Regions from separate parts of the Homo sapiens genome. Here region 2 is linked to region 1. The links come from fine-mapping of genetic effects on gene expression. Tissue or cell type: amygdala. Region 1 holds a variant in brackets; the other region holds the start of a gene. All regions are shown on one strand. Distances are from middle to middle.

The links. PIP is the estimated chance that this variant, and not a neighbour inherited with it, causes the effect.
Region 2: it holds the start of GALNT6, and the variant in region 1 is fine-mapped to the expression of GALNT6 in amygdala (GTEx, PIP 0.96).

Annotation. Positions count from the first base shown.
Region 1 is chr12:51,835,449-51,840,645 of GRCh38, forward strand. The region is part of intron 1 of FIGNL2 (fidgetin like 2); the gene reads right to left. Among named protein-coding and RNA genes, the nearest start is that of FIGNL2-DT, 10 kb to the right of the region's middle. RefSeq lists an enhancer at 632-1,583. The variant A/G (reference allele first, on the strand shown) is at 2,161.
Region 2 is chr12:51,389,446-51,394,573 of GRCh38, forward strand. It overlaps GALNT6 (polypeptide N-acetylgalactosaminyltransferase 6), which reads right to left and starts at 1,961. Exons shown (of 12, transcript NM_007210.4): 1 at 1,842-1,961; 2 at 1,405-1,492. It also overlaps a transcript of SLC4A8 not described here. RefSeq lists enhancers at 87-176, 1,138-1,723, 1,724-2,308, 4,352-4,441 and a silencer at 1,994-2,533.

The DNA of each region.
Region 1 (5,197 bases):
CAAGGCCACCAGCCCAAAAGGGGCAGAATTGGCACTTGCACTCAAGGACTTTGCTTCAGCCCTGAACACAGCCTCTAATCCTGTACTGTCCAATGACAGGCACTAGCCCCATGTAACTATTTAAATTTGCAGACATTAAAATTTAATAAAATAAAAATTTTACTTCCTCAGTGGTACTAGCCACATTCCATATGTTCAACAACCGTATGTGGAAGTGGCCACTGTAGTAGACATCACAGACACAGAACCTTTCCATCACCATAGAAAGTTCTATCGGACGGAGCTGCTCTATCTTGAACTTCTATGGAGTCTCGCTTCTTAAGGTCTTTAGGTAGACTTCCTGCGGATCTAGACTTCTTTTTTTTTTTTTTTTTATAGACAGAGTTTCATTCTTATCACCCAGGCTGAAGTGCAGTGGCGTGATCTCCGTTTACTGCAACCTCCACCTCCTGGGTTCAAGTGATTGATTCTCCTGCCTCAGCCTCCTGAGTAGCTGGGATTACAGGCGTGCACCACCATACCTGGCTAATTGTTGTATTTTTAGTATAGACAGGGTTTCACCATGTTGGCCATGCTGGTCTCGAACTCCTGACCTCAGGTGATCCACCCACCTCAGCCTCCCAAAGCGCTGGGATTACAGGAGTGAGCCACCGTGCCCTGCAGGCTTCTTTTCCTAGGATTCCCAGGCAGTTTTACAGCTACCCTGGACTGGAGCTTTCCCTAGAACCAGGGGAGGGAGGATGGGCTAGCTGAGTCAACTCCCTCCGCCCCAGCCCCGCCTGTCTGCCCTGCCTCAGGAGAGGAGGGACAGGCGGAGGAGGAGGAGAGGAAGGTAGGACAGGGCACTCTGTCATCTGGCCTTTGGGCTGCGCTGCCCTCCCCCATCAGCTGCTCAACACCCCTCCCCCACCCCGCCCACCATCCTCATCCTCATCCAATCCCAAGGACAGATGGGGGCCAGCAGAGAGGGAGAAACGTGACCACAGTGAAAGCACTCTCAAGTGGTAACACAGTCCGGGGGTCACAGCTGTGTCCCCCGAGGCCTGGCCAGTCTCTCATGTCCAGCCTTGATGTCTGGTCAGGCCTGGGCTAAAGTGAGTCTCTGTTGGTGGGGGGCGGATACTTCAGAATCCTAAGGGGAGATGGAGGAATCTGTTGGTGCCGGATTATCCCAGCAGACACACCCCAGTTAGAAATGCAGTCACTCTTGTGGTCACTCATCCATCCATCCATTCAACACACATTGAATAAGCCCCCACCATGTCACAGTGTAATAGGAGGATGTAGAGGTGGGCAGTGGACTTCCTAACCAGCTTGACCAGGTAGGGACATGGCTGGTGGGCTTAATCCTCGTCCCAGGCTAGATGAAGGTCCTTTGTCTCTGCCCAGTGGTCTGAGCAGGGTGGACACCCCCAGCCCCCTCCTCCCCTCACACAGGCGCACATGCCGGTGGGTGGGTGCGCAGACACACACACTCCCAGCTGCTGCCAGAAACCCCCCTCCTGTGGTCTCTCTGGCCAATCACAGCACTGAGGAGTAAGTCCCACTGTCCGGTGGCCCCCAGGGAGTGTATTAGCACATTTGAACCGCTCAACCTGCAACTGACAAAGCCTGGGGCCTTGGGAGGGGACACAGCAGGAGGGGTGGGGGCCTGTGGGGAGCTCTCCTCCCGTCTGCCTCTCAGGGGGAAGCTCAAGACTAGATTAAGCATTCTGGGGCACAGAGGAATTTGGGGGCCCCAGCTCCAGCCGTGAATAAGCGATCCATAAAATCCCAATTTACACACTCACTGATCAAACAGCCCATCTACTACCCCAGGAGGTTGGGGGTGGCTCCTGGGCCTCTCCTGCTCTCAAAGAAGGTCCGGGGGAGCTGGGAACTGGACATAGGACGCAGGCTCCCAATGTTTTCCCTACAGCCTCAGTCCCATTCCCAATCCCCATGAGGGGTATCCATGCCAAGGGCGTGGGGCCTGCCGGTACCCCCTGTGACCTGGCTGCCTTGGGATGGGCTGGGGGGCTGCCTCAGTCAGGCAGCCATCTTTGTCCACCCTCTGTGAATAACAGCTCCTTTTTTCTCTTGTGTTGCCCTGGGGCCGCCAGGCCCGACTGCAACCTCATCAGAGCTGCTAATCACTTTTCCAGCTCTCCTCTCCTCCCC[A/G]CCCCCTTCTTCCCAACAGCCCCTCCACGTTTTCTCTGGACCCTCCACCAAAAGCTGCCCTGGGATGCTCAGGCCACCTTCCTTCCACTGTCTTGTCTCACCCCAAAGCTAGGCAATATCCAGGAACACAAGGGGCTCCAGGCTGGTGCTCTGTCCCCAGCCCATCTTCTGGGAGAAAGCAGGTAGAGAGAAATAGCCTTGTTATTACCCTAGTCCCTGCCACCAAAGAAAACACAACGTGTCTCCCTCTTGCCTAGGTGTTGTTTGCTCCCCTTGGTTAGGCTGCCTGCAATTTCACCAAGAGAACACCATTCTGGTTAAGAAGGATTCTCTTTTAAACCAAATGGAACTTCTGGGAGGCTCCAGGCTGTCAGCCAGTCACACCTCCAGGAGGATTAGCAAGGCTGATTCTCCTTCTCCTTCCCACCTGCTCGAGGTGAGCTGCATGGGCCACTAGAAGTGTTCATGGAGGCCGGGGAAAGCGAGTCTTTGGGGCTGGGAATTGCCCACCACACCACACCCCACTTCTCACTACATGTGAGCTATGTTGGAGCAGGTCAGAGATGGATGTCAGCTCCTGGGCCCTGGGGGAAGAAAGGAGTAAGGGCTGCCCTGTCTGTGTGCTTCCCAGAGGCCACTGCACACTGGGCTGGGAGCTGGATCTCCATTGTCTCATTCAGTCCCCTCAGCAGGCTGCTGGGAGGATTGTGGTGTGAGCCTGTTCTACGGTGAGACATACTCCTTCCCTTCTCCCCTTTCTCCACTTCACTGGCTGCTCCAGGTACCCCACCCCAATAGAGCCTGTACCCATTAGTAACCTGGGTAAGGCAGGTGTCTGAAGGGCAACCTGAAAGACTGACCCACGGCTTGCAGGGGTCTCTGAGCCCACTCTAGCCAGCCCTTCCCCCTCCCATGACTCAGGTATTGCAGGGAGTGAGCACTGGCCTCAGAGTCAGCCTCTGAGATGTGGGACAATGTCTTGATCTGTTTCCTCCATTGTGAAATGGGGGGTGGAGAGGCAGCATCCCCCTCACAGGCTGGCCTGAGGGCAGTGAAGGAGAGGTGGAACTTTCCTGACTAGCTAGAGGGGCCACCCATGCAGGACCCAGGGCAGGCTCCAACTCGCTCCTAGAGACTGGCTAGGTGCAGTGGCCTGGGAAAGAGGTGGGGGGGCTGCTCTCCAGGCCCAGAAGGACCCAACTCATTTGACAGAGGACTCCAAAGAGAAAACATAATCCTGGAGCTGCCTGCGGGGCCCCAGAAGAGCTCTGCCTTGCAGGAATGAGTTCCCTGTCCTGCCCTGACCAGCTGACCGTCACTGAAAATACAGTCCCAAACCACAGCTTCCCAGGATGTCCTCGCCTGACCCCTGGCTGCTCTGACCTGTGTCCTGGGACATCTGTCACCAGCCTCTCCTCTGCTAATAGAGGGAGGAGCACCAGGGCCCTCCCATGACCCCCCCAGCCCACCCTCTGCCACTTAGAAACTGCCAGGCAAGTCTCATACTCCTGCTTCAAGTCCCTCCTGACAGCCCACTGTGCCCAGACGTAACTTGGTCTTGAGCCACATTCTTCACTGTCCCCGGGAATCTTAAGAGGAGAGGTAGGAATCTAGGTGAGAATCTTAGGACCCTCTGGGAGGGTCCACAGAGACCTCAGACTCAACATGCCCAAGGAAAACATCTCCACCTCCTCTCTCCCGATTCCATCTCTTCAGCTAGGCTGGAAACCTAGGAGTCCCTGTGTCTGTCTCTCCAGCCTCCACTCATCTAGCTGGCCATGAAGTCAGGTTAACACTCTCTCTAAAACAACCCACAGCTCTCATGTTCCCCACCACAGCTGGCCCCACCTCTGAATTCTGCCTCTGTTCTCTGCCTTCCTAATCCTTCTTCTGTGTGGCTGCTAGGGTGGTCTTTCTGTCTAAAACAGACTCAGCCTCCTACCAAGCACAGAGACGATGTTAACCCTTCAGCCTGGCACCAGAGGTGGATGAGTCTGTCCTTCCTTCCAGCTTCGGGCCCTTTCCAGCTCCTCCAGTCACATCAGCCCATTCTCTCTGAGGCTGTTCCTGTCTCCCTCTTTGGTGCCCCGAAGCATGTTCCAGGCACTTCTGCCCTTCCACTCCAATGCCCAATTTAGAGGTGACATCACTTGTTAACTGGGTTCCCATTCCCTCCGCTGCTCAGCCAGCCCCTGTCTGTGAGCCCTGGTACAAGTGGCTCTCTAGCCCTTTCTGCAGCTCTCTCTCTACCCTGACCTGCTCCTTCCCAAAGTCCCCTCCCTCAGAAAACATTCCCTGACACACAGTGGTAGAAAGAGCAGGGCCACTGGGAACGAGGATGACCTGGACTTTTTAATGATAGTCATGACTTTTTGTCAGCAATTACTTTTTAAAAAGATGACTTGCTTTTTCATTGAGGAACAGGGATTTGCAGTTGACTCTGCGCTTTGCCCTGTCTGAAGTCAGTTCCCCTCCCTGAGGCTCTGTTTCTAGCACACAACGCAGCCTCACACCTGTGCACTCAGTGATGGGCACTGCGGGGAGGGCGCAGGTGCTCAGTGGAGGCCGCCATGGACTGTCCTCTGTCCACTTGGGGTGGCCCTGTGATCTGGGGCTGGTGAGGTCCTTCCAGTGCCTGTCTCCTCTTGGGTCTGCATCTGGGGCTCCTCTTTGCCTGGGACTTGGCCCTGCATGGGCGAGAGATGGAGGATGAGGCCAGAGCTCTTCACCACTTTCAGCCTTAGGCCCCTTTCGCAGTCTGGAAAACCTATGACCTGTTCTCAAAAATACTTCCTCAATGCATAAAAGAAAAATACATGGGGCTACAAAGGGAATTAATAACATTGGCCAGGCACGGTGGTTCACGCCTGTAATCCCAACACTTTGGGAGGCTGAGGCAGGCTGATCACCTGAGGTCGGGAGTTCAAGACCACCCTGACCAACATGGCGAAACCCTGTCTCTACTAAAAATACAAAATTAGCTGGGTGTGGTGGCACATGCCTGTAATCCCAGCTACTTGGGAGGCTGAGGCAAGAG
Region 2 (5,128 bases), 450 kb before region 1:
TGCATTCAGGCCTATGTATCTCCAAAGCCCACTCTCTTAACTATGACATCACATTGTCTTGCATTTGACTGGTGCTTGGAGCTTTGCCAAAACACTTCATATACACCTTCTCATTTGCTCCCCACCCAGGGAGTGTTTATGTGTTTTGGCTAAGATTATATATCGAAGTTAGTGACAGGGCTGAGTCAGCTGCCTGCCTTCATGATACTCACTGCCTCCCTGCACTGAGAGGCCCTCAGCCCTAGGGTTAGCTGCCCCTCCTGGTCCTGAGGTCTGTTCGAGGCAATGGTTGCATGGACTAAGTTCATGCTCATATTTCCTGTCCCCACTTCTTCCAGCTGAACTTGGGCAAATATGTTTCTGACCTCACAGGGCACCTGACACACATCAGGGCCTCCCCTTCTCTGCCCTGAGTTCTTCCATGCTGCTACAGGTAGGAGTCAGCTGTTCCACCCACTGTAGGACTGTGGGCAGCATTACTGAGGTGAGGTCATCTTGAGCAGCCCAGTCTCCTGCACACTTCCCTCTTTCTTTTGAGGGTCTTGTCCTGTTCTCTGCCCTGGTGCCCCTGGAAGCAACTTTCTCTGATTACCTCTGGGTTCCTAAAGTGCATGGCACCATTAAGGAACTGGAGCTAGGGAAATGCCTGCAATGCTACTGGCTCCTGCTAGGCAATTGGAATCAAAGCATATTTCTTTCTTTCTTTCTTTCTTTTTTTTTTTTTTTTTTTTTTTGAGACAGAGTTTTGCTCTTATTGCCCAGGCTGGAATGCAATGGTGCGATCTCAGCTCACTGCAACCTCTGCTTCCCAGGTTCAAACAATTCTCCTGCCTCAGCCTCCCAAGTAGCTGGAATTACAGGCGCCTGCCACCATGCCCGGCTAACTTTTTGTATTTTTTGTGGAGATGGGGTTTTGCCATGTTGGCCAGGCTGGTCTCGAACTCCTGATCTCAGGTGATGCACCAGCCTCAGCCTCCCAAAGTGCTGGGATTACAGGCATGAGCCACCACATGTGGCCGGAACCAAAGCATATTTCAAACCCCTCACCTGACCTGGTTTTCATCATCACATGAATTTCCCTGTCTCATCCTTCTTAACCTTTCCTTTGATGGGAAGGGAGACAGCTCATCTGTCTGGAGCGGAGAATAGGGCCTGTGTGGTGCACACACATCTCTGGTAGAAGGCGCAAAAGTCCTCGAGGCTCTTTGGTGTGTCCAGAACTATGAACCTCACCCAGTGCCTGTAAATTGTGTGTGTGGGCCTGGGGGCGAGCTCAGAGCACAGAGTTAACATCCTTTCTGAGAGTGCTGCAATGGGTTGTCGGCTGCTAGAAGGGGTCTGCTGTAAGCTTTGTGGGCAAACTGACCACCCTCCACCCCCATACACAGAAGAGCCCCATCCTACCCTCTGCAGACGTCTGGGTCTGCGATGATTGGCCCTGGATGCAAGTAAAAGCTGTTTCTCCTTTTTGTCAGCCTGGGAATCTGAACAACTGAGGAAATAGGGAAGTCGGTGACAGTCACAGTCATGAACACCCAGCAGATTCCATTTCCCCACAGCAGGAGGCAGATCCCTTCCCACCCCCAAAAGCCCCCAGGCTCTGGAGGGAATTCAACCAAGCAGGGCTCAGACCGACCTCCACCAGCGAGGCTTCTCCTTGCTGTCCCCTTCTGCTCAGGCGCAACGTGGCAGGGCAGGAGGAAACCTCTCTGCAAGAGTTGCCGTACCAGAGCACATGGGGTGGCCCGATCTGGGGAGACGGGGCACAGAAGGAATGCAGGGCATGGGTGGGTGAGGGGAAGAGGGTGTGGAGCCCTGGCTCTGGCTTGTCCCCCTCTCACCCCTCCAAGTTCCAGAGGTCTGGGCTCCTCATTCATCTCGTAAGCGCCAAGGTGGAGGGGGGTCCTACCGAGGGAGGAGCTACAGGCCACCGCGACCAGCAGAGAGCGAAGGCAGGAGGGACCAGCCTGGCCCAGCCCCTTCATTTTACTGTCGGGGGTAGTGAGGAGGAAGAGGAAGAGGCGAAGGCTGGCGGAGGAGGAGGTGAGAGCGAGGACTCGGCAGAAGCGAGATCCGCCGAAGGGAAGTCCGAGCAGTCGGGGAGCTCAGGGGGGCCCTCCCGGGGAGAGGGTCGCGGGCTCCTTCTGCCGCTTACCTGTCGCGCCGAGGCAAAGCCGCAGCCGCGCCGCGGGGTGGCTCCCGGGTTTCCCCACCGGACGGCCGGGAGGGTGGGACCGGGGCGGGACCTCCCCCAGCTGCACTAACGCGCCCGCCCCGCCCCTCCCTGGCCAGGTGCAGCGGGTCCCGCCGTGTCCTCAGCCTGCTGCGGGCCCGGGAACTCCCGGCGGACCGGCAGAGGGGCGCCCCGGCTTCTCTGCGTCTCAGCCCGCCCCGGGGGTGCGGTCTTTGCGGCCAGGCTTTCAGCGCGGAAAAAGATTGGAGGGTCCTAGTCACCCCAAAGAGGACAGGCATTAGCAGAGCCGCGGGCGGCGGGTGCATGGAACCGGAATGTGCTGCGCGCCAGCCTGGAGCGCTCGGAGCCCGGAGGCCTGCCCCGGAGGGGGAAACGCGGCGGGGCGGCCATGGGCCCCGGGGTCCTGCCCCAGGTTTGCTTCTCATTTGTGCTCCATCCAACAAGAGCTCGTATTCCGTGTGCCATGAACTGTGTCAAGGGCTCCAAGTGCCAGGTATCAGGTGAATCCCAGCCCCAGCAAACTTTAAACCTACTATGATTATTCCGAATGTACCGGGGAGGCAGCTGCTCACACAGCAGAGGGTGTTTCTCAAAGTGGGATCCCCCACCAGCAGCGCCAGTCAGAATCACCTGAGAACTTATTAGAAATTTTGGCCGGGCGCGGTGGTTCATGCCTGTAATCCCAGTACTTTGGGAGGCCGAGGCGGGCGGATCACAAGGTTAGGAATTCGAGACCAGCCTGGCCAACATGGTGAAACCCCGTCTCTACTAAAAATACAAGAAATTAGCTGGGCGTAGTGGCGGGCGTCTGTAATCCCAGCTACTCGGGAGGCTGAGGCCGGAGAATCGCTTGAACTCGGGAGGGGGAGGTTGCAGTGAGCCGAGATCACGCCACTGCACTCCAGCCTGGCGACAGAGCGAGATTCCGTATCAAAAAAAAAAAAAAAGAAAAAAAGAAAAGAAAAGAAAAGAAATGGGCCCCACCGCAGACCTAAATATTCCGAAACTCGGGTTGGGCCCGGCGACTTGTGTTTTAAAAGCCCTCCGGGTGATTTTGTGCATGCTCGACCTTGAGAACCCTGAACAATTAGTGGCAGGGCTGGAATGAGAATCCTGGTAAACCCGCCTCCTAAGCCGGTGTTCGGAATTACCCCGCCAGGGCCCGTGCTGCTCAGTGGTCCTCTCCGGCGCTGCCTCGTGTGCTGCAATCTTTTGGGGCCTTAGCAACAGAGAAGGAGCGCGCATGACTCCAAATAGCCAATAATTTGAAAACTTTCTATGGTAGAAACTTCTACCACTAGTTCAGTTTCTCTTTTGTTTTGATATTTAAATAAATTTGTCTTTCTTTCTTTCTGTTTTCTTCCTCTTTCTGCTGCCCCGCCTCCCTCCTTTTTTCTTTTTTCTTTCTTTCTTACTCTCTCTGTCTCTCCTTTCTCTCTCTCTCTTTCCTTCTTTCTCTTTCTTTCCTTCTTTTTCTCTTTCTTTCTCTCTTTCTTTTCTTTTCTTGCTCTACTGCCCAGGCTGGAGTGCAGTGGAGCTATCACGGCTCACTGCAGCCTTGACCTCCGGGTCTCAAGCTGTTCTCCTGCTTCAGCCTCCACAGATGCATGCCACCATGCCCAGCTAACTTTTTTTTGTAGAGAGGGAGTTTCGCCATGTTGCCCAGGTTGGTTTCAAACTCCTGGGCTCAAGCCATCCTGTTGCCTCGGCCTCGCAAAGTGATGGGATTAGAGGCATGAGCCACCGAGTCCAGCCATGAATTTGTATTTCTAAGACCCTAAGACCTGGGAGCAGGAGCATGAGTGAGTAGATCCTAGCAAGAAGTTCTGACACGCACTGGGAAAGGCAGGGAAGCCAGCCGGGTGTTAACAGGTGAATGAAGAAAGTAATCTTTTTTTCTAACCTGAGACTCCAAGGTAGGTTTGATCTATTCAGAAGGTGAGATGTTCTTTGATGGAGTCAGGAGAGAAGGCCAGCAGAGTGTGGAGAAGAAGAGTTGCCCAGCTACACATGATCAGAGTGACGTGAAGGATGGACATTCTCCCAGGAGTAGAAAGGGGTTCATCTGCTCACTCTTGGCATGATGCCCGACTCCCCTAACTCTAAGCAGCCTTCCACCAACTCCCTTCCTTTCACATTCCAGGCCGTGGGCTTTAAGCTCCTAGAGAGACTTTCTACAGAGCTTCCTTGAGCATCCCTTAGCCCATCTGTAGACCCTCTGGACTCTGATTCCACCTCACTGCCCCAGCTGCTTCTATTCTTGTCATGTGCCTTACTTGACAGCTGTCTTTCTCAGAATGAGGGCACTTCCTGTGGAAGATTGTGGGATGCTGCCCCTCATGTCTCTCTTCTTGGGGCTGAACACTCCCTGTACAGGTCGGACCTACCGTCTTTGCTCTGTCCTTCCTCCACCTCTGCCCTTTGACCCTCAGGGGTTGTGTGATCCTGACGTGAGTCTTGCACCTTAGTCAGGACCCAACCTAACCTGAGGTGAATGGCCCCTATTCCTTCCCAGGACAGGGTCATGGCCATTACCCCCAGCCTGGTGCTCCTGAGAGGGCCGGGCCCAGCTTCCCAAGAAGTAGCAGCAGTCTGCGTTGTGTGTTTCGCATTCCGGAAGCAAATTACTCATCTGATTTTACTTCAGCTGACGCTGATTTTAAATGTGACTTGGAATCCTCAGAATAATTAGCTGCCTAATTTGGAGGTTCATGAGTCCGCAGGATGTGTGACCCACCCCTAATGTGTCATGCACTGAGCTGTTCTCTCCTAACAGGAAGGACGGTGCAGGCTTCCTCTCCACCAAGCCAGGAAGGTTTGCAGATGAGCCACCACAGAATAGTGACTGCAATTTCTGCCTCCGCTGGTACAGGCAACTTTCGAAAAATGGTTTTTTAGGCTGGGAGTGGTGGCTCATGCCTGTAATCCCAGCAC